Linked DNA regions of Homo sapiens. The protein of the gene in region 1 purifies or fractionates together with the protein of each later gene. This does not show direct contact. Each region holds a gene or a part of one and is shown on either strand. Other genes may lie near its edges.

The links. The genes of interacting proteins can lie anywhere in the genome.
Region 2: the proteins of SPSB4 (region 1) and LRIG2 purify together in Homo sapiens (co-immunoprecipitation; 2 studies listed by BioGRID and IntAct, with this or other methods). This does not show direct contact.
Region 3: the proteins of SPSB4 (region 1) and PCDHGC3 purify together in Homo sapiens (co-immunoprecipitation; 2 studies listed by BioGRID and IntAct, with this or other methods). This does not show direct contact.

Annotation. Positions count from the first base shown.
Region 1 is NC_000003.12:141,046,471-141,054,416, reverse strand, and holds the start of SPSB4 (SPRY domain-containing SOCS box protein 4), read right to left. Parts: upstream 3,071-7,946; 5' UTR 2,425-3,070; intron 1-2,424. UniProt on the Homo sapiens protein: Substrate recognition component of a SCF-like ECS (Elongin BC-CUL2/5-SOCS-box protein) E3 ubiquitin-protein ligase complex which mediates the ubiquitination and subsequent proteasomal degradation of target proteins.
Region 2 is NC_000001.11:113,076,198-113,083,197, reverse strand, and holds part of LRIG2 (leucine-rich repeats and immunoglobulin-like domains protein 2 isoform 1 precursor), read right to left. Parts: intron 1-7,000.
Region 3 is NC_000005.10:141,471,138-141,478,965, reverse strand, and holds the start of PCDHGC3 (protocadherin gamma-C3 isoform 1 precursor), read right to left. Parts: upstream 3,001-7,828; 5' UTR 2,850-3,000; coding exon 420-2,849; coding exon of another isoform or gene 258-419; exon of another isoform or gene 171-257; intron 1-170. UniProt on the Homo sapiens protein: Potential calcium-dependent cell-adhesion protein. May be involved in the establishment and maintenance of specific neuronal connections in the brain.

The sequences.
Region 1 (7,946 bases):
AAAATTTTTTATAGTTGATCTTTTCTTACCACAGATGGTCATGTTCACATAAATCAAGAGTACATACTATGTACTTATATAGTACATATATAGGCAGAGACTTCTGGTGACCTCCATCTACGGCCTGCCACTCCCCTGATTTTCATGCCCAAGACCCTTCACTCCTGTATCAACAGAGAAAAAACCTTTCTAGAGCATGGATGTGTGACAACAGGTCGGGCAGCTCAGGGGAAATTAAGTAACTCCTGTATGGTGAGTTGTACTAGGTCTTTCCCCAAAAGGGCAAGGAATTCTGCACTGGCCACTGTGGCTTGGCCACTTTCTGGGATAGAAATGAAGCCCTTCCAAGGACAGTTCTACGTAAATGATGAGGAAGTTTCAGTTGTATGAAAAACTAGGAGGAAAAGTATTCTAGGCAGGGGAACAGCAAGTGAATGAGCCTTTGGAGTGTTGGAGTAAAAGGAAGAAGGCTAGGAGGGTGGGTAGTGGGGGAGAGGAAAATGGTGAGGAAGAGGTGGAGAAGGGCAGTACCAGACCTGAGGACCCCTGGGATCATCTAGATTTTACTCTGTGGCAGCCTTAAGGAGGTCCTGAGCTAGGGAGAAATGTGATCTACATTTTTAAAAGATGCTTCTGATAAATGGTTATGACTACTTGCTAATTTGATACATTAAAAAAAAATCTTGTAATTTTAACTTGCATTTTTCGTATTGAGGTAAGGTATCTTGTCATATGTTTTGGTATCATTTCTATTTTATTTCGCATGTATGAATCGTGTCTTTGCCCATTTGATCTTTTGTTTGTTGACCTCAGGAATCTCTTACATATTTAAAGAGATGAGCCTGTTGTGATAGGAGTGGTATATGTCATATGTGACAGTTTGTCATATATCTTTTGACTGTTTCTGGTGATTTCTTTTCCTTGCAGATTTTATTTTTATATCATTAAATATATCTTTAAAATAAACGAGAAATACAAACTGGAGAGATATTTGGGTAGAAGGTCCAGTAAGTTGAATTTTGTTTGTGATTTGCCAAAGGTGGCTTAAATTCTTTTCATTACCATTTTTAAAAATGGAATAAATTAGAGGGTATGTGTCTCAGAGGAATATGCCCTTGGGTAAAGGATGTTTATATCATGCTTTTACACATTTTACGTCTTCCAGACTTAAGCTCATCAAATTGCGCGGGTGGGGGGCAGGGGGCCAGAAAGGGGGTGGGAGGATAGAGGGCTCAGAGTCTGAGAGAAAGGAACTCCTATCTTCATCCCCCAACCCCCCAAGGAGGAGAGTGGGGCGCAGAAGAGGAAACCAAGCGGGGGGAGGTTAGAGAACTTGCCCAAGGTCACACCGCGAGCTGGTGGTGGAGACAGATTCGAACCCAAGCCTGACTCCAGAACTGAGAACTCTCCACCTTCTCGCGACAGCGGTACAGAAAAGTGCCCTCCTCTCCTTCCTGCCGGCAGCCGTCTGCGCTTGGCCATGGGCCGGCGGGAGCAGCCACTCCCCCGGTTCTCCCGCCAGTCAGAGGTCGGGGGCTCGGCGTCCCCTTCTGGCTTGGAGCCCCTGGCGCGTACAGAGCGACCAGGGCGGACACATTTGCCGCGCTCAAGTCTCTGACCCCCTCCCTCCTTCCCAGAGCCCTGCGCCTAGGGTTTCCTGAGCTCCCAACCCCCTCCCTTCCCGAGCATAGACAAGTTTGTATTCAAGCAAGGCCAGGACTGGTCCCTGAGTCGCTCTCGGGCCAGGCGACCAGCCTCACTGCCCCAGAGTCAGGAATAAACGGTAACAACAGCCACCGGTGCCTATTGCGTGACCCGTGCTTTACTTCCACCTCTCCGAATACCCCGGACGAACAGACCCCCAGGAATTATTGTCCCCATTACACGGACGACGGAACTGCTGCAGCTTCGGAAAGTTGGATAACAAGCTTGGGCTCGCAAAGCTAATAATAATACTAGCTAACATATGATTGAGTGTTTCCTGTGTGCCCAGCACATGTCTACCTACGAACACCATCCCATAGATCTTTCCAATACCCCTATAAAATGTGCACAATTATCATTCCCATCCTACGGATGAGGAAACAGGTTTGGCGCCCTGTCCAAGGTCACTCAGCCAGTGAGTGACGGATCCTGGATCCAAACCAAAGCGGGTGAATCGGATGGCAGTTTTTTGTGCGTTGTCCGCTACGCAGAGAAGCAAAGGGCTTAGAACCCATGATACCAAAGGCCGGGCCCCAAACGCCCCAGGGCTGCGCGCAAATCAACCATCTCGAACTGCCACAACCTGCAGAGAGGAATTCTCAGGGACTGGGACGTCAGGAGCGCCAGCTGTGTCGAGTGCTGGCCCGCACAAAGTCCGTGCAGCCGGATCTCGGCTCCCGGCCCCCGCGCGCCCCTCACCAGGAGCTGGAGAGTACTTACCATAAAAGAGAGGGCAAGCGCCTGTTCGGGAAGAATCCCCAGCGCTGGCAGGTCCTGGACTCCCTGGAGAGGGGTCTGCTGCCGCCGCCGCCCACTCAGGGGCGCCCGAGTGACCCGCAAATGCCGGCTCTCTCCGCACGGCCAGGGGCGCGTCCTCACGGCTGATGCCCGGCAGCAGCGCCCCCTCTGCGCTGCAGGATGGCCTGGAGTTAGGAGCGTTCTTGGCGAAGTTGGCGCTCAGGCGCCGGGGGTCGGGCCTGGAGTGGGGAAGCGCCTTACTGAAGCGATCCTGGGGGCGCTCCAAGGCCCGCGCTCTAGCCGCTTGGAAGCTTGGCGCCTGACCCGGAGGGCGACGAGTCCCGCGCTCAGGGCGCACGGGCCGCGCCTCGGCCGCTGGCCCCCGGCGCGCCGGGCGTCTTCCCCAGCGCCCTGAGCGCACGCAGCGGTAGCAGCAGCTGGGGCCCGGGCCCGGGATGTGGTGTGTTCATCGCCCTCCCCTGGGGCTGGGTGCTTTTGTGCGCGGGGCGCGCCGGCCGCCACGGCCAGCTCTGGATGCTGCAGCCGCCGCCGCCTCCCCCTCCTCCGCCGCCGCCGCCCGCTCCCCGCCTTCCCGGCCGGCCCGGAGGCTGCAGCTGAAAGCCGATCTGGCTGAGCTCATCCCTGAAGGCCACTAATCCAATAGCCGCGGAAGGCGCGGTCGCCGGGAACGCCCCTTCCCCCACCATCCCGCGCCCCGGCCGTCCCAGCTCGGGCCGCTGCCGGCGCCGCCACCTTCTCGAGGCCACCAGCTGGCGGGAGAGGGAAGTGGAGCCCGCGCCCGCGCCCCTGTGCCAAGGCGGCGGCGCGGTCGCCATTCACTCACCCGCCCACTCGCCCGCTCACTCCCTAGCTCTCGCATTCATTCCTGCGCGCGGGTCCTCCCGGATTCATTCAAGCGCTCCTGGAGCGCCAGGGTGGGTGCCCCTGACGGGGAGGAGACACCCAGTCACTAGGCAGCTTTGGTGCCTTTACTCAACGCACGTGGGAAATAGCAGCCAGGAGGAAAAAAGGGTGGTTTATTATCCCCCTTCCTCAGACACACACGTCCACACTTTATTTTTGAGATCAGGCTCCAACTCATCTCTTAAAGTCCAATTTCATACCGCACCTGCTCAAGGAGCGTTCCCCGCCCACCCGAGGCGCAGGAAGTCGGTCTCTTTGCTCTACCAGCGCTGATGGTGGGCCGCCTCATTGGGAGCCTGAACTGAGCGATGGGGTAAAGGGCGTGGCCAAAACAGAAGCCTCGAGGGTGCTTCTGGTATCTGCGCTTCCTTGGGGAAATTGAAAGTTCTTGGTTTGGTGGCCCTCGTCTGTGCTCCCAGAATTGACTTTAGGTCCATTACGCAGTCATTTGCTAACCCAATCCCTCTCTGTGCCAGGTACCAGGCAGAGTCTAGATGCAGACAGAGTCTAGATGCAGACAGAGTCTAGATGCAGAGTGCGCATTTCATCAAGGACATGGAAAACAAGTAAAGACAATCCAACTCTATGAAGGAAACGTTTTGAGAGAGGTTCTGGGGCGAATTTGTCAGACTGGAAAGGGCAACTGGGAATGTTTCCTAGTAAATGTGTCTACATGAATTAGCTCCTGGAGGCAGGGGTACAACATGGTCACCTGGAGAGCTACCTATCACAGCACAGAGCCTGTGCTATGAGCAGAGGGGGTATGACGGAACTGGAGGGATGGACGGTGTCTAGGGTCTTGGGTGGAGACTGTATCAAGAGCTTGACCTTCCCCATCACTTTGGGAGGCCTTTAACCAGGGTAGTGACCTTGTCGGATTTGCATTCCAGAAAGACCTCTTAGCAGCCAACTGGATGGATGGATGGAGGAAACCAGGTTGGCAGCTACTGTAATAGTCTAAGCATAAGATGATGCTTTATGAACCAAGATAACCATGATGAGGTGACAAAAGTGTGTATTGACACGTATTTATTGTACTTATTCTAACGTTTCATCACTGTCTGTTTGCATGTCTGCCCCTCCTAAAACTGTGAGCCCCCCCTGGAGGGCAAGTATAGGTACCTCACACATCTCTGGATGCCCTGCACCAGCATAGGATAGATGCTGAGGACAGTGAATGTGATTTGAACTGCCCTAAGTGGCAGTGCTGACCTACATTCACACTTGGTGTCTTTCCTTCCTACCTCCTATTGACAAGCTCCTGGAGCACCTCTACTGTGAGCTACTGTGGGGGTTATGGATGTGGTTGGGGAGCAAGAAAAGAAAATTTGTGGAAAGAAGCTCAGAAGCAAAGGAAAGTTTAAAGCAGACGTTCATGCTGATGGTTTCTCTACCCATCTGGCTGACAGGCTGGGTGTGTGTGTGGAGGATGCCCGTTGCTTCCACTCGGTGCTGGGAAGCATCACAGTAGCTTCAAGGATAAGGGAGGGAGGGAGCAGTGGCCACAATTTGAGAAAACAACTCCCCCCCTCCCTTGGGGGCTCCAGTTAGGTTCACCACACTGGCCTTTCCCAATGAGATTATGCCCCAGGCACAAAGGAGTGGGCCAAAACAGGGCCCCCTTGTGTCCCTGTAGACCCCCAAATCCTCCAGCCTCTGGATAACAAGGGAAACAACTTGCCATTTGGGGAGAAGCCAGGATAGCCTGGCTACTAAAATTCTTTAGATTGAGATCAGCAGCTTCTAAATGGCCCCCAGTGATCCCTGACTCCTGGTATATACTCCCTTGTGTAAACCCTTTCCCTTAAAGTGTGGGCTAGACTTACTGACTTGCTTCTCACTAACAGAATACAGCAGAGGTAATGGGATGTTCCTTCCAATATTAGGTTATAAGAAGACTGTGGCTTCTGTTTTGAGCATACACTCTTGCTCTCTTTTGGGATCACCTCTCTGGAGAAGCCAGCTGCTATATCCTGCAGTGGCACTGTGGAGAGAGGCCCATATGGTGAGTGACTGAGACCTACCGATAACCACATGAGTGAACTTGGGAGCAGATCTCTGCCCCGCCGAGCTGAGCCCTTCATAGGACAATACAGCCCTGTGTGATGCCTTGACTGCAACCTCATGAGAGATCGTGAATCACCGAAACCAACTACCTGTGCTTAGATTTCTGATGCATGGAAACTGTAAGATAATAAATGTTTGTTGTTTTAATCAGCTAAATGTTGGAGTAATTTGTTATTCAGCAGTAGGTAACTAATGCAAGATGTTCTTAACTGTCCAAGAGTGAGTCTAAAAATGCAACCGTGAAAAACTAGCCACAGTATTGCTCTAAAGAATGTACAGTATTGCATGGGCATAGTCAGACAGCTCTGGGCTTAAATCTCAATTCCAAGCCTTTGGGTCCTAGCTTTCTCATTTCTAAACAGGAACAGAAGAATGTCCCTAGAGTACAGTTGTGGGTTGTAGCTTGTCGTGTAGTCGGTGCACAATAAATCTTTTTCCTTCTACTTCTCAGGAGTAGACCAAGATCTGTAGCATTCGTGGGATTCTTGGACTAAGGCAAAGTAATGCCTGGGGCAGAAGGTCCAGTAGGGAGCTGCTGCAGTCAGGGGTCCAGAACCCCTTGGATAAAGCAAAGCTCTGAACCTCACTCCTCCTGCCTTTGCTCCCACAAGGAATGGTATTCGGTCTACTTCCCAGTTTTTAGCTATTGAAATCTCGGACTCCTTCTCTGTCTTGTAAAAGTATTAACCATGGTTTTACAGAAGTTGGAGGAAAAACTTTCAGTTCTGAGAAATTTTGGAGCTTGCAGCTTGCTCCAAGGAGGTCTGTGGCAAGACAGAACTGTGTTGTGTGAGGTTTGAATGTCCTCTGCCCACCCCTCAGGAGCAACCCTGTTTGAGCCCAGCCTGCCATGCAGCATTGTCCATCAGGTGCTCAGCTCTCAAATTCTGTTCCTCTTTACAGCCCAAGCATCACCATCTCTTTCCCTAGCAGTTATAGCGGCCCCCTCACCTCTACTGCTGGGCTCTCTTCATGAAGGAAAAATCACCCTTGCCACTCCCTTCAGAGGTACCCCATGGTCCACAGCATAATTTTCATGCTTTTTCATGGAATCTGGCTCCCTGCCTACTCATCTAGTTTCACCTCCTCTCATTTGCGCTCTGGGCCAGGCCACACTGGGGCCCCCTGAGCTCCTCCATGCTCTTTCTCCCTGCCACAGGCCATTGTAGGTGCTTACCTTTCTTCCTGGTACAGACTTTCCAGGTAACTCTAATTCATACTTCGTCTCTCTGCTTGTATACATGTCATCTCCTCCAGGAAGCCTTCCCAACACTGCAGGCACAGCACGGTGCCCTCCTATGTGCATCTCAAGCCTGTGCTTGCCTCTCTCACAACCCCAAGTCCCACTGTTGTGACCTCCTTTCTTGTCCCTCACCCCAAGATATGAGCACTTCAAGGGCAAGGCTGTCTTTTTCATTTTTATAGCTGTTACACCCCCAACCACATTTTCTTCTTGCTAATTTCTCAAAGCAGAAAGCTCCACAGTCTTCCCAAATAGCCCAGGCTGGATTAAGGGCCCCTTCTGTAAGCCCTACCACACCTTGTTGCTTTACATCTGTCATAGCACCTTGAAAACATTTGGGGAATTGTCAGACTCTTGCATCACATGGTGACTCTGTAGGGCAGGACTGTGTCTGATTCATCCCAGTGTTCCTAGTTCTCAGCCTGGGGCATGGTATACAGTCGACAAACAGTAGATGTTTGTGGAATAATTAAAGGTAAAGGAAAAGAAAAGAAAGACAGGCAGGCAGGGAGGAAGGGAGGGAGGAAAAAAGGAAGAAAGGCCAGCTCCATTGGCTTCTCTCTCTCCCTCTCTATTTCTGTCTTCCATTTAGGTATTGAATGATCAGAATTGAATTAATCATAATCCTTGATCATGACACATTGTCAACATTAGCCCAAGTATGGGACTTATTAATTCATGTATTTATTCATAACATGATGAACACACATGAACCCACTATTGAACCCAAGACCTAGAACATTTCCAACACCTACATCTTCCCGGGTGCTCCTTTCCTAGCCCATCTTTTTGCCTCTCCTTCACACAAAAACACTATCCTGATTTTTTTTTTAGATGGAGTCTTGCTCTGTCACCCAGGCTGGAGTGCAGTGGCACCATCTCAGCTCACTGCAACCTCCACCTCCCAGGTTCAAGCAATTCTCTGCCTCAGTCTCCCGAGTAGCTGGAATTACAGGCTCCTGCCACCATGCCTGGCTAATTTTTTGTGTTTTTAGTAGAGATGGAGTTTCACCATTTTGGCCAGGCTGGTCTTGAACTCCTGACCTCGTGATCCACCCATCTCAGCCTCCCAAAGTGCTGGGATTACAGGCGTGAGCCACTGCGCCTGGCCACTATCCTGATTTTTATGGTTTATCATTTCCTTGGATTTAAAAATACATGTAACATGAATTTATTTAGCTTTACTTGCTTTTTGAACTTTATTAAAAGGTACTATACTATATATCATTTTCTAGGAATTGCCATTGGACTTAACAAGATTCATCCATGT
Region 2 (7,000 bases), on another chromosome or scaffold:
TGCCTCATATCTATAATGCCAGCAATTAGAAGGCTGAAGCAGGCAGACTGCTTGAGATTCAGAGTTCAAGACCAGCCTGGGCAACATGGCGAGACCCTGTCTCTATAAAATCTACACAAAATTAGCCAGGCATGGTGGCACACATCTGTAGTCCTAGCTACTTGGAAGGCTGAGGTGGGAGGATCCTCAAAGCCCAGGGAGGTTGAGGCTGCACTGAGCCATGATTGCAACACTGAACTCCAGCCTGGGCGTGGTGGCTCATGCCTGTAATCCCATCACTTTGGGAAGCCAAGGTGGGTGGATCACCTGAGGTCAGGAGTTTGAGACCAGTCTGGCCAACATGGCAAAACCCCATCTCTACTAAAAATATAAAATCATTAGTCAGGCATGGTGGCAAGCACCTGTAATCCCAGCTATTCAGGAGGCTGAGGCAGGAGAATTGCTTGAAACTGGGAGGTGGAGGTTGCAGTGAGCTGAGATCTCACCACTGCACTCCAGCCTGGGCAACAGAGAGAGACTTCGTCTCAAATAAATAAATAAATAAGAGAGACCCTGTCTCTAAATAAATAAATAATAGCGTGACACCTCCCCTACACAACTCTCTCTCTCACTCCTGCTTTTGCCATGTGAATTGCCTGCTCCCGCTTTGCCTTTGGCCACGAGTAAAAGCTCCCTGAGGCCTCACCAGAAGCCAAGCTGATGCCAGTGCCATACTTCCTGTACAGCCTACAGAACTGTGAGCCAGTTAAACTTCTTTTCTTTATAAATTACCCAGTCTGATTTAATTGTATATAGCAGTGCAAGAGACTAATACACCAGGGTATAATTGTGTAACAACCAAGCCCAGGTGATCTGTATCAGATCTGTATTAGATCAGATTTCTTTAGGCTCTCTTGTTGCAGATTTTCTTGTTCAGATATCTTATAAACTAACAAAAATGTCTTGAAGATATCACTAGATTTTAAAGGCTCACATTTGCTGTTTACCACTTCCCCAGATATACCAGGATAAAGAAGACAAAATATGTTAAAATCCTTAATACAGTGAAAGCATCGTATATGCTTTGAAATGACTGTTGCAAGTGAAACAGTTCATTGTAACAGTATCATGCAAGCCAGGGGCAAAGTATATTGGATTCTGGAAACATAGCAGCTTTTCCCACGCCTCATGCCCAATTTGGTTTAGGGATTTACTACGTCTTTTATTTACTTAATTTTTTTACTTGGCCACTAATATCCAGTTAAAGTGTTTCTTTTGCAAACTAAAACTGCTGTTTCTGCTACTGTCTAAAAAAGATAATCTTTCTATTACATGAGATTATGTGAGAGACATCCATAATACTTTTGAAGTATCTCAACTTTAGAAATGGGTGGCTGGAGGCCGAGCACAGTGGCTCATGCCTGTAATCCAGCACTTAGGGAGGCTGAGGTGGGCGGATCACCTGAGGTCAGGAGTTTGAGACCAGCCTGGCCAACATGGTAAAACCCCATCTCTACTAAAAATACAAAAATCAGTCAGGCCTCGTGGCGGGTGCCTGTAATCCCAGCTACTCGGGAGGCTGAGGCAGGAGAATTGCTTGAACCCAGGAGACAGAGGCTGCACTGAGCTGAAATCACCCCACTGCATTCCAGCCAATCACGAGGTCAAGAGATCGAGACTATCCTGGCCAATATGGTGAAACCCCGTCTCTACTAAAAATACAAAAATTAGCTGGGTATGGTGGCGCGTGCCTGTAGTCCCAGCTACTTGGGCGACAGAGCAGGACTCTGTCTCAAAAAACTAAAAAAAAAAAAATAGAAATGGGTGACCAGTATACAGTTTCAGACCACTAAAAACACCTCCATCTACAGCTGTCAGCCATCATGACACTCCATGCAACTACTTACTCATTAATATTTAGTAACTATCTAATGGATGCTGCAAGGCTCTATAAAAACAAAGATAAGGGAAAAAATGAAAGATTACTTGTGGATACGTTTTTCCGAATTTTGAGGCAATTAGACGAAACATCCCAGATGCAGAGTCAGATGGGAACCAGAGTTAGTAATAACTTTTTGGGCCAGGCGCGGTGGCTCATGCGTGGAATCCCAGCACTTTGGGAGGCCAAGGTAGGCAGATCACGAGGTCAGGAGTTTGAGGCCAGCCTGGCCAACATGGTGAAACCTCGTCTCTAGTAAAAATACAAAAATTAGCCAGGCGTGTGGTGCATGCCTGTAATCCCAGCTACTCAGGAGGCTGAGGCAGGAGAATCCCTTGAACCCAGGAAGCACAGGTTGCAGTGAGCCAACATTGTGCCATTGCACTCCAGCCTGGGCAACAAGAGCAAAATTCCGTCTCAAAAAAAAAAAAAAAAAAAAAAAACTTTTAGTGTTCCCATATTTAGAATTTTTCTTTGTTTAAAAAGATGATTTTGAAATAATTAGCTAAGATAATGCCCTGATTCATTCACAACATTTACTATGGATAATGAGGTACCTTGAAAAGAAACCATATAGTAAGATAGTTAAAAGACCAGAAGCAGGCCGGGCACAGTGGCTCACGCCTGTAATCCCAGCACTTTGGGAGGCCGAGACGGGTGGATCATGAGGTCAGGAGACCAAGACCATCCTGGCTAACACGGTGAAACCACGTCCTACTGAAAATACAAAAAATTAGCCGGGCGTGGTGGTAGGTGCCTGTAGTCCCAGCTACTCCAGAGGCTGAGGCAGGAGAATGGCGTGAACCTGGAAGGCGGAGCTTGCAGTGAGCCGAGATTGCGCCACTGCACTCCAGCCTGGGCAACAGAGCGAGACTCCGTCTCCAAAAAAATAAATAAATAAAAAAGACCAGAAGCAAATTAGAATGGGTTGCTTTAACTTGTTTTAAAATTTCTCCTGATAGGCTGGGGGCAGTGGCTCACGCCTGTAATCCCAGCACTTTGGAAGGCCAAAGTGGGCCAATCACGAGGTCAGGAGTTGGAGACCAGCCTGGCCAACATGGTGAAACCCCGTCTCTACTAAAAATACAAAAATTAGCTGGGTGAGGTGGTACGTGCCTGTAGTCCCAGCTACTTGGGAGGCTGAGGCAGGAGAATCGCTTGAACCTGGGAGGCGGAGGTTGCAGTGAGCCGAGATTGTGCCACTGCACTCCAGCCTGGCGACAGAGCAAGATTCCGTCTCAAAAAAAAAAAAAAAAAAAATTCGGGCCAGGCGCAGTGGCTCCCAGCACTTTGGGAGACTGAGGCAGGCGGATCACGAGGTAAGGAGTTTGAGATCAGTCTGGCCAACATGGTGAAGCCCCGTCTTGACTAAAAATACAAAAATTAGCTAGGCATGGTGGTGGGCGCCTGTAATCCCAGCTACTTGGGAGGCTGAAGCAGAATCGCTTGAACTCGGGTGGCAGTGAGCCGAGATTGTGCCACTCCACTCTAGCCTGGGCAACAGAGCAAGACTCCGCCTCAAAAAAAAAAAAAAAAAAAGATTTCTCCTGATTTCCCTCCAAAGGTATAACCTTTCTTTTTTCTTTTCTTTTTTTCTTTTTTTTTTTTGAGATGGAGTCTTGCTCTGTTGCTAGAGTGCAGTGGTCTCAGCTCACTACAACCTCTGCCTCCCGGGCTCAAGCGATTCTCCTGCCTCAGCCTCCAGAGTAACTGGGATTACAGGCGCCCGCCACCACGGCTGGCTAATTTTTGTATTTTTAGTAGAGATGGGGTTTCACCATCTTAGCCAGGCTGATCTCAAACTCCTGACCTCGTGATGTACCCGCCTCTGCCTCCCAAAGTGCTGGGATTACAGGTGTGAGCACTGTGCCCGGCCATCTGTACCTTTTTTAAAGGGGCTCATTTTCTTTCTCTTCTTTTTTTTTTTTTTTTTAAATAGGATCTTGCTCTGTCTCCCAGGCTGGAGTACAGCGGCATGATTTCGGCTCATTACAACCTCTGCCTCCCAGGCTCAAGCAATCCTCCTACCTCAGCCCCCCAAGTAACTGGGACTAGAGGTGTGTACCAGCATACCTGGCTAACTGTTGCACTTTTTTTGACAGACAGTGGGTTTTGCCACGTTGCCCAGCCTAATCTTGAACTCCTAGGCTCCAGTGATCAGCCGGCCTCAGCTTCCGAAAGTGCTGGGATTACAGGCGTGAGCCACCGCACCAGGTCACAGGGCTCATTTTCAATTTACCAACTTGTGGTTTAAAGCTATTAAAGTAGATTACTTTCACATTTCAGCTAGATTATCCAACCGCAAGTTACAAAGTTATCTCAAAAAATATTGCCTCCTCTGGCCGGTTGTGGTGGCTCACAACTGTAATCCCAACACTTTGGGAGGCCGAGGTGGGCAGATCACCTGAGGTTGGGAGTTTGAGACCAGCCTGACCAACATGAAGAAACCCCATCTCTACTAAAAATACAAAATTAGCTGGGCGTGGTGGTGCATGCCTGTAATCCCAGCTACTCGGGAGGCTGAGGCAGGAGAAGCGTTTGAACCTGGGAAGTGGAGGTTGCAGTGAGCTGAGACTGGACCATTGCACTCCAGCCTAAGCAACAAGAATGAAACTATTCCGTCTCAAAAAAAAAAAAAAAATGTAGAAAGGAACTGCAAATGATCTGCCCCTTTAGGAAGGAAATATGAAATACAGGTAAAGCTATGAAGTTTTTGCTTGACATCACACAAGTCACTGCTAGTGAGCTCATACTCTTTTAAGGGATCAAGACTAAATCCATGGGAGGCCGAGGTGGGTGGATCACCTGAGGTCAGGAGTTCAAGACCAGCCTGGCCAACATGGTGAAACCCCGTCTCTACTAAAAATACAAAAATTAGCCTGGCGTGGTGGTGGGCACCGGTAATCCCAGCTACTTGGGAGACTAAGGCAGGAGAATCGCTCAAACCCAGGAGGCGGGGGTTGCAGTGAACCAAGATCCCACCACTACACTCCAGCCTGGGCAACACAGCAAGACTCCATCTGAAAAAAAAAAAAGACTAAATCCACATGTTAATAGTGAAAACATAAAGACACATGCACACATATGTTTACTGTGGCACTATTCACAATAGCAAAGACTTTGAACCAACCCAAATGTCCATCAATGATAGACTGGATTAAGAAAATGTGGCACATATATACCATGGAATACTATGCAGCCATAAAAAAGGGTGAGTTCATATCCTTTGAAGGGACATGGATGAAGCTGGAAACCATCATTCTCAGCAAACTATTGCAAGGACAAAAAACCAAACACCACATGTTCTCACTCATAGGTGGGAAATGAACAATGAGAACACATGGACACAGGAAGGGGAACATCACACATCGGAGCCTGTCATGGGGTGGGGGGAGGGGGGAGGGATAGCATTAGGAGATATACCTAATGTAAATGATGAGTTAATGGGTGCAGCACACCAACATGGCACATGTATACATATGTAACAAACCTGCAAGTTGTGCACATGTACCCTAGAACTTAAAGTAGAATAAATAAATAAATAAATAGTGAAAACATTTTGCCAGGGTTACTAAAATAGCTACAGAGGTTGAAGCTCAAGTCACACATGGAAAGACTTCCCTAGAGCTATTCAACATAAGCTTATGTCCTCTATGCTAAAAAACGAATCTGTTCACAACTATTATAAAGAAACAAATGCAAACAAATTTTAAACAATTATAATGAAAATAGAAAGAACTAAAAAACTATAGGTAACTAAGTATATATATAATTCAATAAATTAATCAAGTACAGCACTGGTTCCCAATACTGATCCAAGACAAAATTTTTAGCAGCTGGCCAGGCACAGTGGCTAATGCCTGTAATCCTGGCACTTTGGGAGGCCAAGGTGGGCGGATCACCTGAGGTCAGGAGTTCGACACCAGCCTGGCCAACATGGCAAAACCCCTTCTCTACTAAAAATACAAAAATTAGCTGGGCATGGTGGAGGGCACCTATAATCCCTACTCGGGAAGCTGAGGCAGGAGAATCACTTGAACCCGGGCGACAGAGGTTGCAGTGAGCCGAGATCAGGCTGCTTCACTCCAGCCTGGGCGAAAGTGAGAAACTCCATCTCAAAAAAAAAAAGAAAAAAAATTTAACAGTCTACAGTGAAATAAAACAGTAAGGAAAAGGTTACTTTTATTTCATAAAGCTAAATCTATATAATCTATAGAAGCGTCCTTAACCCTAAAAATACATACTTCTTAATGTTTTGGTACTATCATGAAATGACCAAGACAACACATCATTGGGGGAAAGGGGTTCTAACAAAGTTACTTTGCAAAATAAGAAGTTGAGTCATAAACCTAGTCTTTCAATGCTGTGTATGTGTGTGTAATCAGAATAATGTGAAACAGAGCTCTATACCCACAGAGAACCCAGTCAAGCTCTGAATGATCAAATAATATTCTAGAGAGTTTCTCATACAGAGAAGCATAAAGACAGTATCTGAGTATGTTTCCAAAAATCAGTATTAATGAATTTTGTCCATAATCATTTTGATGGTCACAAGTTTGAGCATATATTTGAATCCCTAATATATTTAAAGCATTACATGTATTTCAACATTCAAAATTACATAAAGAAACCCAAATGTACTGGGTGGTTTTATAGCTAAAGGCAACTGCTGAAGAATGTTTCATTTCTCAATTTAAAATAGTACGGTACTATCTTTTAATATTCTAAGAGTTCTACCAATGTAAGACTTCCATCCAATTACATTTCTACAACTGAATTGTTCTCTAAGTCATTTCACTTCAACTGAAAATGTCATTTCATTATAGGACATTAAAAATTCTGAATGTCACTTGGCTCTAGGCAATTGGTCTTGATTAAACAAAAATCAAACCTTAACACAAAAATATATCTTACATAAAATTACTTCTAAATGTTTACCAACCAACGGAGAATCTTAAATGTAGGCCCGGCTGTGGCCAAGCGCAGTGGCTCGTGCCTGTAATCCTAGCACTTTGGGAGGCCAAGGTGGGCAGATCACCTGAGGTCAGGAGTTCAAGACCAGCCTGGCCAACATGGTGAAAC
Region 3 (7,828 bases), on another chromosome or scaffold:
GGTGGAGGAATGAGGTAGTTTTTGTATTCCTAGAAGCTGCCACTGGTTAGAGGTATCCAGCAGCTTATTCCTAATGTAAATGATACCAAGCTAAACTCTGATCGCTGAGATCTTGTGTTTTAGCTTAACCATCCCTTAGCAAGATTGGTTAGTTGTGATAGCAAAAGAGTGCTGAGGATGTGAATTAGGTCCACAGATGAGTCAAGTATCTTCCCCCTGAAATGGGACCACAAACCACACTCTGGCAGGCCACCATCTCACAAAGGCACTAACTTTGATCTAGGAAGGGCCAGTTGAAAGTGTGAATGCATCACCAGGAAAACATCTTCATCACTAAAAAAACAGCTCCATTCCTTCCTCAATATGATGTAGGAATAAAAAAGCACTAACAGGGTCAAGCATGACTTGCTAAACCTTACCTGTCCGGGAGGGGCGCTCTCTGCACCCAACACCTGCCTATAGAACACCGGATCACAGCTCCGCAGCGTGTTCTGGCGGCTGGCCAGTGGACTGGCTGCACCAGGTTTCTTCAGCAGCGGGTCGCTGCGGCGGGAGTCCGTGGTGAGATACACCTGATGGTAAAGGTGCGGCGACATCAGGCCTCCCCGCACGGCGTCCGCGTGCAAGGAGGGCCCTGGTGTTCGGTACAGTGAGCTCACCGGGGCTCGGTATAGGTCTCTAGACTGCTTCCACTTGTAAACTTTGAATATGATTACTCCGAACACTGTGACCACAAACCCCACAGAAACCAGGATTAGAGAAAGAAGTAGATAAAAGGTGAGATTTTTTTTCTGCTCCCGGGGGGCAGAGCCAGAGGGGAACTCGGCTCGGGCTTCAGGAGAGTCCTCGGTTACTGACACAGTGAGGGTAGCAGTGGTGGAGAGCGAAGGCTCCCCATTGTCTTTGATCAAGACCGTGAGAGTCTGCCTGGGTGAATCTGTGTCTTGGACTGGACGGGCAGTACTGATTTGACCAGTGTGCAGCCCTATGGCAAAAAGGCTCTGGTTAGGGGATCCCAAGAGACTGTAGGAGAGCCAGGCATTGTGCCCTGCATCCGCGTCCCAGCCTACCACCCGTGACACTAGGTGGCCAGCTGAGGTACCTCGAGGCAGCATCTCCACCGAGCTCCCACCTGGCCGAGGATATAGGACCTGGGGGGCATTGTCATTGCGATCAGTGACAAATATGTTCACGCTGATGTTGGTGGCTAGGACCGGGGTGCCCCCATCGCTGATATGAGCTGTTAATTCAAATTCCCGCCGATCCTCATAGTCTAGGGGCACTAAGGATGACACTATGCCATTGTCACGATTTATTGTGAAATAGCGACCCACTAGCCCGGTTTCAGCTCCTTGCTCCAAGAGAAAGAAAGAAAGCCGAGCATTCTGCGGGGCGTCGGGGTCCCAGACACTTAGGTTTAGTATTGGAGCCCCGGGGAGGTTGTTTTCTTCAATGTAAACGTCGTAGGAAGATTGAGAAGATTGTGGAGGGTTGTCATTGATGTCGGACACTTGAACACGCACTATTGTAAGGGCTGAGAGGGAAGGGGTTCCGGCGTCTCGGGCGGTGATGCTGAGGTTGTATTCTGGCACAGTCTCCCGATCCAGGTCTGCACTGGTTTTCAAAGTGAAGTAATTCTTGAGGGAAGAAGTAAGGCTGAAAGGGAGACCCGGTGGAACTTCGCAGGTCACCAGCCCGTTCTCGCCAGCATCCAGGTCAGTCACACTGAGCAAAGCGATGACAGTCCCCAGAGGGGCATCCTCGGGTACTGGGCTGTACACGGAGGTGACTGTGATCTCCGGGGCGTTGTCATTCACATCCACAACCTCCACCAACACTTTGCAATGTGCTCCTTCGGGATTGGCGCCCTTGTCTTTGGCCTGGATGTAAATCTCATGGAGTTTGGTGTCCTCGAAGTCCAGCCGACCCTTGATTGTCAGCATCCCGGTTACAAGGTCTAAGGCGAATAGTTGCCGCACGCCGGCGCGGTTGTGGCTGCCGAAGGAGTAAATAATTTCACCGTTGGGGCCTTCATCCAGATCCGTTGCAAGGACTTGTACCACGCGCGTGCCGGAGGGTGCATCCTCCAGGACGCGCGCCCGGTACAAGGACTGGTTGAAGACAGGCGCATTGTCATTCGCGTCCAGCACCTTGATGTGAATAGGCAGGCTGGCGGAGAGAGCTGGGGTCCCTCCGTCCAACGCCGTCAGCACTAACTGGAGACTAGGCTCCCGTTCTCGGTCCAGGGCGCGCTCCAACACCAGCTCCGCGTACTTGGTGCTGTCCTCCCGCGTCTGCACGCGAAGCGCAAAGTATTCATTTCGGCTCAGCTCATAGGTTTGTAAAGAGTTGCTTCCCACATCGGGATCGTGCGCGCTCTCGAGCGGAAAGCGCGTCCCCGGAGCCACGGCCTCGCTAATCTCCAATTTCATTTCCTGGGTAGGGAAAGCAGGATTGTTGTCGTTGATGTCCTGGATCACCACTTCCACGCTGAACAGCTCCAGCGGGTTCTCCACTACCAACTCCAGAGTTACAGTGCAAGAGGGCAGTGTCCCACACAGCTCCTCTCGATCCAGACGGTCGTTCACAAACATCTCTCCGGTCTCCCGGTTCACCTCAAAGAATCTTCGGCTAGCTCCAGACACCACCCGGAACCTGCGGGCTGAGAGGCTACCGAGATCCAAACCAAGGTTCGCGACCACGTTGCCCACAGCGAAACCCTTCTCTCTTTCCTCCGGGATCTCATAGTGAATGACCGTGGAAGCCTTGTTCAAGGCACCAAGCAGAAGCAAAACTCCCACTACCCTCCCGGTGCTTACCAGTCCGCTCCTCCAGGCCTCTGGGACCATCTCACTCAAAAGCAGTTCCTCTCAGCGGGGTCCAGATCGTCCCTGAGATTTCGCTGAGAAACTTTCAGCGGGTTAGCGCTTGGGCGCTGGGCGCCGAGTCCGACATGGCTTTCTGGATGCCGTTGATTTGCTCGCCGGCTGTTCAGTCTCTGCCTCATCCCGGGGCGCAGAAAGGGGACGGGCAGGGGCCCGATCTCCAGCGTCTTCATTGGCCGACAGCGGCACACAGAGTCCCAGCCAATAACTGCACGAAGAATGAGCTAGCGCCGGGCTCTCTGAGCAGGACACGCGCTAGCGCCAGGAACTTCACTTTCCTTTGGCTTCCTTCCAGAGTTTCCAGCCAAAGCGCCTTGCCAGTATCGGTGCATAGGAAACCTACCTTAGGGAAAGCCAGCCTTGGGGCTGTGAGGCTAGCCGTTCTGCAAGTCTCCAATCCAAATCAAGACTCATTAAACATTTGAATCACTTTCTTTGATCACAAGAAAGGGGATCGAACCAAACCGAAAACTACACAACATTGTCTGGAAAAACACCAACAAATCTGGCTTGTTGGAAGACAGACAATTAGCCGGACCCTACTTGTAAGGAGGCATTTAGCATTTCCGTGGAGACATTAATAATTTCAGTTTTATCTCTTACCAAATGAAATTAGCATTCCCTGTCACTTCCTCATTATCTGGAGCTACTATCAAATTAGCAGGAGTTACAATCTATTGGTTTAACTCTGGCTTATAAAATTTAAAAGTACAATTCAGATTTTATTTCTTTTAAAACTGGATGTCATTGTTAGCTCTCATTTCTTAAGAACCAGGGAGCAATAAGAAATTTCCCTACCCTGTCTTTCACAAGGAGCATGATCTCAGTTGTAGAGCACACTCTCTCTATCGTTTCCCTTTACTTGATCAATCCTTTTCCCAAGATCTTGGGTACCATATGCCACAAGAAGTTGCACTGCTAATGAAGAAGAAGACGGAGAAGATTTCAAAAAGAAAAAAAGCCAGGCCTATTTACCACCTAGGATCTTTATAAAATTATTGAAATAATGGCAGCAAAGCTCCACAAATCTTTAGAAAATACAAAGCCTTTAGTCACAGAATAAAGAGCCTTAACTTTTCTGCATTTAGAATTGTTGTCACCAAACAAAATTATAATGATTAGGATAGTGAATAAAAGAGTCCACTGTGATATAAGCCAGAGATGAGATGTATATCCTTGAACAAGAAATGAACCTCTAAGAGTTCCTGCTCCTATCCTATTAAATGAAGAAGGCAGGTAAAGTGCCTGGCACAGAGTAAGCCTCAATTAATGATGCAAACCACTCCATTAGATGTAAAGTGTTAGAGCCTCATACTATTTCTGTATATTTGTCTTGGACATCACTTTGATTGCATAGAGTCCTTTTGAAGTATAATAGAACCTTGAACATAAGTGAAGGGGTAGGCACATAGGTTAGGTAGGTAGAAAAGAAGTAAGGATATATAGGATATTTCCGGAAGAGATGAAAAGCCATATGTGACCTATATTTCCATGTCTTTAACACTTCAATTAATCTCTGAAAACCCCCAGTTTTAAATGCTCAAGTTTGATAATTAGCCAGACCAGCAAGAGGGCTGATAGGCATTAGAAGATAGAATACATTTAGAATTTAGAATAAAGAGTATAGCCCAATCACTTGCTACTCAAAGTGTGAGGACCAATGGTCTAGGCATCACCGGGGAGCTTGTTAGAAATGCAGAAATGCCCTCCTCTAGACCTACTGAGACATGACTTACATTTTAACAAAACATCAGGGTGATTTGAAAACACATTAAAGTTTGACAAGCACTGATCTAGTGGGTTATTCAGAGATACACTGGTTTATCAGTCTTTTTTTCCCCTATTCAGCATCACTTAATTCACAATCTGGTTTTTGAAAATCAGCTTTTAAAAATGTAAGTAGTTTTCTCAATAATAAGGCCTGTCATTTTCTTGATAATAAGGCCTGTAGTTTTCTGAGATTTTCGTTGTTGTTGTTTTTGTTGTTGTTTGTTTTTTGGTTTTTGTTTCTGAGGCAGGATCTCGCTCTGTCATCCAGGCTGGAGTACAGTGGAATAATCATAGCTCACTGTAACTTCCAGCTCCTTGGGCTCAAGGGATCCTCCCGCCTCAGACTTCTAAGTAGATGGGACTACAGGCCTGAGCTACTGCACCCAGCTCATAGTTTTCTTAAGACCTCTTCATGAACCAACAGAACCCTTGTGTATGCATTCTCCACAATAGCGAGGTTCATCTTCCTAAAATTTTAATTGGATCACACAATTGTCCAGCTGCTCCTCAGTAGCATCATACTGCTCTTGAATTAAAATACCAAATCCTTTGCATAGTATCCAAGTTCTCATGTCTTCTCCCTCTCTCACTATATTCCATTGCACCACTTGGAGGGTGGTCAGAACCCCAGCCCTTCCCTGTCTCAGGGCCTTCACACAAATTGTTCCTTTGCCAGGAAAGCTGCTTTTTCCTCCCTCCCTTTGCTTTGCTAATTTCTACAGGTCTGTCTGGTCTTAGTTTAAATGTTATTTCCTAATAGAGGTCTTCCATTAGGCCCCAGTTAAAACCAGGATCCTTTGTTATGCTCTCTCAGAACACCTTATATTTTTTCCATTGAACTTGGCACAACTTTAAATTTTATAATTATTTTTGCATAAGCAAAGTATCTGCTTCCCCCACTGAAGAAGAAAAAAAGAAGCTCCAGGAGGGCAGGGACCATGCTATTTTGGTGGCCACTTGCATCCTCACTGTCTAGCACAGCAGGCACTTAATGCTTATTAATATAGCAATCTTTATGCTACTGACATAGTAAAATAATCATAGCATACACTAAGGACTATATATGTATTCACTTGTGTGGATCCAATCTCCCTGGAAGTAAGCATTTTTTAGAAGATACATTTACTCCTTCAAGTTACCAGTGGGCCTTCCTAGCCCTAGTGATCTGAAGAGATAATATAGTTTGCCAAAGAGCCAAGTAAAGTGTGGTAATACAACTCACAGTGGATAATAAACAAAGATGCTGTAACTTGTTGTATCACTTCTTTCTTTCTTTCCTTCCTTCCTTCCTTCTTTCTTTTTCTTTTTCTTTCTTTTTTTTTTTTTTTTTGAGTTTCACTCTTGTTCCCCAGGCTGGAGTGCAATGGCATAATCTTGGCTCACCACAACCTCCTCCTCTTGGGTTCAAGCAATTCTCCTGCCTCAGCCTCCCGAGTAGCTGGGAATACAGGCATGTGCCACCATGCCCAGCTAATTTTCTATTTTTAGTAGAGACGGGGGTTTCTCCATGTTGGTCAGGCTGATCTTGAACTCCCAACCTCAGGTGATCTGCCAGCCTCCGCCTCCCAAAGTGCTGGGATTACAGGTGTGAGCCACAGCGCCTGGCCTGTATCACTTATTTCTAGGGGAAATGGAAGGACCAGTATACAGGATTTATATACTGATTCAACACAATTTCCCAGTCTTTATCTTTTTTCTTCTTTGTTTTATAATTTCAAGAGAGCTTCTGACCAATGAGATGCAGCATTTATAATATAATTTTTTTTTTCTTGAGATGGTGTCTCACTCTGTCACCCAGGCTGGAGTGCAGTGGCACGATCTCGTCTCACTGCAAGCTCTGCCTTCTGGGTTCAAGCGATTCTCCTGCCTCAGCCTCCCTAGTAGCTGGGATACAGGTGCGTGCCACCACGCCTGGCTAATTTTTTCTATTTTTAGTGGAGACGGGGTTTCACCGTGTTAGCCAGGATGGTCTCGATCTCCCAACCTCGTGATCTGCCTGCCTCGGCTTCCCAAAGTGCTGGGATTACAGGTGTGAGCCACTGTGCCCGGCTATAATATAACTTTAAAATAGAAAGTGAATGTATTATATGATCGAGAGTAAGGTCTTAGTGTCAAAAAGATTCAAATTCCAATACTGGATATTACACCTAGTAGCTATGTAACCATGAAACTTTTATTTTTAACTTCTCTTTTATTTTCTTTATGTATAAAATGGGAATAATAATAGTACTCATTGATATAACCACAGACATGTCAATCATTTTTAAAATCTTTTCACAGCTTTCTACATACAATATAGTGCCCCTATACGATGCAGGGATTTTTAATAAATTTATACAGTAATGCAACCAACCCCACAATCCAGTTTTAGAAAACTCTCATCACCCCCAAAATTTCCCTCATGCTTGTCTGTAGTCAATCTTCCTAGCTTCAGCCTCAGGCAACCACAGTTTTGCTTTTTCTGAATATTTTATTAAAAAGGAATTATAAAATAGGTAGTCTTTTATATGTCTTTTATATGACATAGCATAATGTCAAACTCATCTTTTGACCACACCCTCAAATATGTTATGTCTCCAACCTTCCTTACCTGGTAAGTGGCACTTCTATTCCAGCCAGAATTTCAGAAGTAATTTTTAATATTTTTTTCTGCATCCCCACATCCAGTATATTACTAATCCATACCAATGCTTACTACTCCCAAAATATATTTTGAAACTATCAATTACTTACCCTATCTACTGCTACCCCTGAGTCAAAGCAACCTTAAATGCTATCATAGCTTCCTCGCTGTTATTTTTACTCCCTCTCTTGCATTCCCTAAATTCCATTTCACATGCAGAGACCTGAGTAATCTTTCAAAAGGTACATGAGATTATACACTTTCCTTGCTAAAAACATAACTAAGCCTAGCTACGTAACTTGTAGGGTCAGTGCAAAATAAAAATAGGGGGCTTGGAGGCCGGGCGCAGTGGATCATACCTGTAATCCCAGCACTTTGGGAGGCCGAGTTGGGTGGATCACTTGAGGTCAGGAGTTTGAGACCAGCCTTGCCAACATGGTGAAACCCCATCTCTACTAAAAATACAAAAAAATTGCCAGGCATGGGGGTGGGTGCCTGTAATTCCAGCTACTAGGGAGGCTGAGCCAGGAGAATCACTTGAACCCAGGAG